2 separate regions of the Homo sapiens genome follow, and region 1 is linked to region 2. The links come from fine-mapping of genetic effects on gene expression. A gene starts in region 2. The other region holds a variant in brackets. All regions are shown on one strand. Distances are between the middles of the regions.

Region 1 (2,918 bases), 53 kb before region 2:
CATGTAGTCTTTGGTTTCAGTTCCTGTGTTAGTTTACTGAGAATGATGGTTTCCAGCTTCATCCATGTCCCTGCAAAGGACATGAACTCATTATTTTTTATGGCTGCATAGTATTCCATAGTGTATATGTGTCACATTTTCTTTATCCAGTTTATTATTGATGGGCATTTGAGTTGGTTCCAAGTCCTTGCTATTGTGAATAGTGCTGCAATAAACATATGTGTGCATGTGTCTTTATAGTAGAATGATTTATAATCCTTTGGGTATATACCCAGCAATGGGATTCCTGGGTCAAATGGTATTTCTGATTGTAGATCCTTGAGGAATTGCCACACTCTCTTCCACAATGGTTGAACTAACATACACTCCCACCAACAGTGTAAAAGTGTTCTTATTTCTCTACATCTTCTCCAGCATCTGTTGTTTCCTGACCTTTTAATGATTGCCATTCTAACCGGTGTGAGATGGTATCTTATTGTGGTTTTGATTTGCATTTCTCTAATGACCCATGATGATGAGTGTTTTTTATATGTTTGTTCACCACATAAATGTCTTCTTTTGAGAAGTGTCTGTTCACAACTTTTGCCCACTTTTTGATGGGGTTGTTTGGTTTTTTCTTGTAAATTTGTTTAAGTTCCTTGTAGATTCTGGATATTAGCCCTTTGTCAGGATAGATTGCAAAATTTTTTCCGATTCTGTAGGTTGCCTGTTTACTCTGATGATAGTTTCTTTTGCCGTGCAGAAGCTCTTTAGTTTAATTAGATCCCATTTGTCAATTTTGGGTTTTGTTACAATTGCTTTTGGTGTTTTAGTCTTAAAGTCTTTGCCCATGCCTATGTCCTGAATGGTATTGCCTAGGTTTTCTTCTAGGGTTTTTATGGTTTTAGGTCTTATGTTTAAGTCTTTAATCCATCTTGAGTTAATTTTTGTATAAGGTGTAAGGAAGGGGTCCAGTTTCAGTTTTCTGCATATGGCTAGCCAGTTTTCTCCACACCATTTATTAATAAGGAATCCTTTCCTTTCCCCATTGCTTGTTTTCATCAGGTTTGTCAATGATCAGATGGTTGTGGATATGTGGTGTTATTTCTGAGGACTCTGTTTTGTTCCATTGGTCTACATATCTGTTTTGGTACCAGTACCATGCTGTTTTGGTTACTGTAGCCTTGAGGTATAGTTTGAAGTCAGGTAATGTAATGCTTCCAGCTTTGTTCTTTTTACTTAGGATTGTCTTGGCTATATGAGCTCTTTTTTGGTTCCATATGAAATTTAAAGTAGTTTTTTCTAATTCTGTGAAGAAAGTCAGTGGTAGCTTGATGGGAATAGCATTGAATCTGTAAATTACTTTGGGTAGTATGGCCATTTTCATGATATTGATTCTTACTATCCATGAGCATGGAATGTTGTTCCATTTGTTTGTGTCCTCTCTCATTTCCTTGAGCAGAGGTTTGTAGTTCTACTTGAAGAGGTCCTTCGCATCCCTTGCAAGTTGTATTCCTAGGTATTTTATTCTCTTTGTAGCAGTTGTGAATGGGAGTTCACTCATGATTTGGCTCTGTGTCTATTATTGGTGTATAGGAATGCTTGTGCTTTTTGCACATTGATTTTGTATCCTGAGACTTTGCTGAAGTT[G/A]CTTATCAGCTTAAGGAGATTTTGGGCTGAGACAATGGGGTTTTCTAAATATACAATCATGTCATCTGCAAACAGAGACAATTTAACTTCCTCTCTTCCTATTTGAATACCCTTGATTTCTTTCTGTTGCCTGATTACCCTATCCAGAACTTCCAATACTATGTTGAATAGGAGTGGTGAGAGAGGGCATCCTTATCTTGTGGCGGTTTTCAAAGGGAATGCTTCCAGTTTTTGCCCATTCAGTATGATATTGGCTGTGGGTTTGTCATAAATAGCACTTATTATTTTGAGATACGTTCTGTCAATGCCTAGTTTATTGAGAGTTTTTAGCATGAATGGGTGTTGAATATTATTGAAGGCGTTTTCTGCATCTATTGAGATAATCGTGTGCTTTTTGTCATTGGTTCTCTTTATGTGATGGATTATGTTTATTGATTTGCATATGTTGAACCAACCTTGCATCCCAGGGAGGAAGCCAACTTGATCGTGGTGGATAAACTTTTTAATGTGCTGCTGGATATGGTTTGCCAGTATTTTATTGAGGATTTTCGCATCAATATTCATCAGGGATATTGGCCTGAATTTTTCTTTTTTTGTTGTGTCTCTGAAAGAGTTTGGTATCAGGATGATGCTGGCCTCATAAAATGAGTTAGGGTGGAGTCTCTCTTTTTCTATTGTTTGGAATAGTTTCAGAAGGAATGGTACCAGCTCCTCTTTGTACCTCTGGTGGAATTCGGCTGTGAATCTGTCTGGTACTAGGCTTTTCTTGGTTGGTAGGCTTTTAATTACTGCCTCAATTTTATAACTTGGTCTGTTTGGGGATTCGACATCTCCCTTGTTTAGTCTTGAGAAGGTGTATGTGTCCAGGAATTTATCAATTTCTTCTAGATTTTCTAGTTTATATGTGAAGAGGTGTTTATAGTATTCTCTGATGGTAGTTTGTTTTTCTGTGGGATCAGTGGTGATATCCACTTTATCATTTTTTACTGTGTCTATTTGATTCTTCTGTCTTTTCTTCTTTAGTAGTCTGGCCATCAGACTATCTCTTTTGTTGATCTTTTCAAAAAACCAAATCCTGGATTCACTGATTTTTTTAAAGGGTTTTTTTCTGTTTCTATCTCCTTCAGCTCTCCTCTGATCTTAGTTATTTCTTGTCTTCTGCTAGCTTTTGAATTTGTTTGCTCTTGCTTCTCTAGTTCTTTTAATTGTGTTGTTAGGGTGTTGATTTTATATCTTTCCTGCTTTCTCCTGTGGACATTTAGTGCTATAAATTTCCCTCTAAACACTGT
Region 2 (2,918 bases):
CCACCCATAGAGTCTGCATAGCTAACCTAATGCAATTAGTTGGTAGGAGAGATATAAAAACATATTTAAAAGTTCAGGGTAGAAATCCATTTTTTAGTTTAAAAATGTTCAATAGTATATGTATTTTATGATCTTATAAACCGATTTAATCTTGTAACATACAAAGGAATTAAGAATTCTGATTGGTGACTTGCAAGATACCATTTGAACAGAGTTGAAGAATCATTTTTGATTTTCCAATACGACATATTGAAAGGGCAAAAGGAATGGCTTAGTATTTATGGAAAGACTTACTGAGTGACAGCTGTCCCTTCACACTGCTCCAAGGGCATCCCTTGTGTAAATTTTAAACATCACAGAGTTCTAAAAGACGAGACTGATTTGCCTGTCACAACCCCCCCCTTTCTTCATAACTACTCTTTTCCATAAAATTCCTCCAGGGAAGGAACTTTTTATTTATCTGGCTTTGTATCCCCAGCACCCAGCACAGAGCCTGGCACATAGAAGACATTCATTAAATGACTGTTGAATGAATGAAAGAAACAAATTTGATATGACAACAAAGATAGGTTAACATATATGGGACAAACATTATTTGACAATGACAAAAGAAGTGAGGCACAGCCTGACGTTTTTCACTCATAGAACTTTTCCTGATTTAAATAGTGTCCACCTACACTTTTATATTGCAAATAAAATGCCTTTAGTTTTAAATTTGGTCATTATGCTCTTTAAGACTGAAAGATGTGAAGACATCACCATCACTTTTTGAAAGGAGAAGGTCCTCATGGGAATACCTATCATATATCTTGGGGGATGGGGAGTGGGGGAATTTGGGAGTCTCTGGAAACTGATGTAACTGAAATTAAACTTCAATTTCTCGTACCCATTTCAAAACTATTTGAAAAGAGGTAATGTAGGTTTCTCCATAAACCACTTAAGCGATTTCTGATTTGTAGCAATACAGTATAAAATATAGGACTTATTTTCAAAGGCAGAATACAAAAAAGTTCAAAATGCAGCTGACCTTGATGAGTTAGGATTATGCTGGAAATCAGTTGCTGAAATTTAATTATTTCTATTACTTCTCCCGCCTTCTCCCAAGTTAAATCATATTGAATAAGGGCGTTTTGGAGAAAAATCCAATTACCATAGAATTATTTATCTTTAAACTATCTAGTTTGCACCCAATTAATTTTTCCTCAGCAGTGCAGTAGAGTAAAATTCAAGGTCTACTGCTAATACAAAAACTTCCTTCCAAAAAAAGAGTAAATGCTACTAATTTTAAATATTTCTACACTTAAATTAAAAGAATGAAATATACGCTAACAAAGGCAAATACAAAATACTCTTCCCAGAACTTACTTCTGAAACCTAGCTGTTTTTACACAGCAGTTTTAATTAACATTTTTCAAAATTGTAGAATAAGTACATATTTTCAAAAATAAAACCACCGAATACTCCATACACACACACAAAGTTCTCAGAACGAGAGCAAAACATGCATATATCCTCACTACAAAAAGAAAAATACTAATACTGGAGCATTTTGCTGTGTCTCCTTACCTCGAGTGCAGTAGATTGCAGTAGGGCCAGCCGATTTATTTCCCTGCAGCTTAGTTATCATAAAACGGAAGGGGCGTCTCGTTTGCTCATTTTTGTTTTTTTTTCTAAACCAAGTAGCGTGCATCTATCCTTCTCCATTAGCTGGATTAACAACCTGGAAAAAGTGCCGCCCGCAAAGTGAGCGCCTGGAGCAAGGGACAGTCCCCGAGTGGCCGCCCCTCCCTTTCGGTGACGCTCCACTTCCTGTCGGCCTAAAAGGCATTCCCAGGAAGCTCGGTTTTGTAGTTTCCAGCCCACCTCCGAAAGCCAATCCTTTCCTCCATTTCTTCTCCAAGGTAACAACTTTTAAACATTCACGTGACGGACCACCTTCCCTCAGCCAAACAACTTCCCTGAAAGGCGCCCGAAGGAGCCTTCCCATCCACCGCGGGTGCCCAGGAAAGGCCTGTGGGGCTCTCCTCCCCGCGCTCCACACGCCCTCGCATCCCACCGAGGGGCCAGCTTCTGCCTGCACGTTGCTGAAACTGGCCTGGAGGTTCTGACAAGAATTAGAGCGGCGGCCGTTGCCCCGGGGATGACCTGGAAGCGAAAGAGACCGGCACGAATTCTAGAGTTTCGGGGTTTCCGCGGGTTGAGATTGTACGGGAAACAATGCATTAACCAAACCTAAAAATCAAACAAACACGTCTGGTAGAACCTACCATTAAAAAGCTTCTTTCCTATACTACGTTTAACAGCCTTTATTTTGAAAGACATTGATTGATGCCAGGCATGGTGGCGCACGCCTGAGGTCTCAGCTACTCCGGAGGCTGAGGAGGATCACTTGCGTCCGGGAGTTCCAGGCTGTAGTGAGCCTCATTGTGCTCCAGCCTAGGTGACAGGGCGAGACCTTGTCTCTTAAAAAAATAAAGAAAGAAAAACATTGATCGCCTCCTGCGTGGCAGTCCAGAAGGGTCAAGCGCTGTTTTCGGGGTGGCGTGGAATGGATTCCTAAGATTTGGGCGCCCATAGAGTTAACGCAGCAAAACGATCACTTGCGTTTCCTGCGGACTGGCGGCAATAGAACACGTGGCTGCCTAGACTCTTAATCACTGATATCTACCACACCAGGATTTAATGCCAGTTGGGAGGAAATGGCGAAAGGGCAGGCGCTGGAGCCCATGCATCCGGGAACACTGGTGGTAGGCGGTCGGGTGGGCGTGAGCGGGCTCTCCATCTCCCAGCCCAGTCTGCAGGTCGCCACCTCAGGATTTTCTTCCTGAGTCCGGGTGGCAGGATTCCATCCCAGGTCAGCCCCTCACACCCCCTGGTAGTTGCCACCTCCTGGCGTCCCTCCAACAGCTCCAGCACCT

Direction of the effects. Alleles are on the strand shown, and positions count from the first base shown. SD is a standard deviation of normalised expression in the study named.
For the expression in whole blood of the gene that starts at base 1,776 in region 2, allele G in region 1 goes with a higher level than allele A (moderate effect, 0.54 SD a copy in GTEx).

Evidence for each region. PIP is the estimated chance that this variant, and not a neighbour inherited with it, causes the effect. A credible set is the group of variants that fine-mapping cannot tell apart.
Region 1: its variant is the best candidate, but not a certain one, in a credible set for the expression of EXTL2 in whole blood (GTEx, PIP 0.60).

What each region holds. Positions count from the first base shown.
Region 1 is chr1:100,839,868-100,842,785 of GRCh38, forward strand. No RefSeq gene overlaps it. Among named protein-coding and RNA genes, the nearest start is that of EXTL2, 54 kb to the right of the region's middle. The variant G/A (reference allele first, on the strand shown) is at 1,630.
Region 2 is chr1:100,893,067-100,895,984 of GRCh38, forward strand. It overlaps EXTL2 (exostosin like glycosyltransferase 2), which reads right to left and starts at 1,776. Exons shown (of 5, transcript NM_001033025.3): 1 at 1,567-1,776. RefSeq lists enhancers at 1,108-1,831, 1,832-2,554, 2,449-2,518.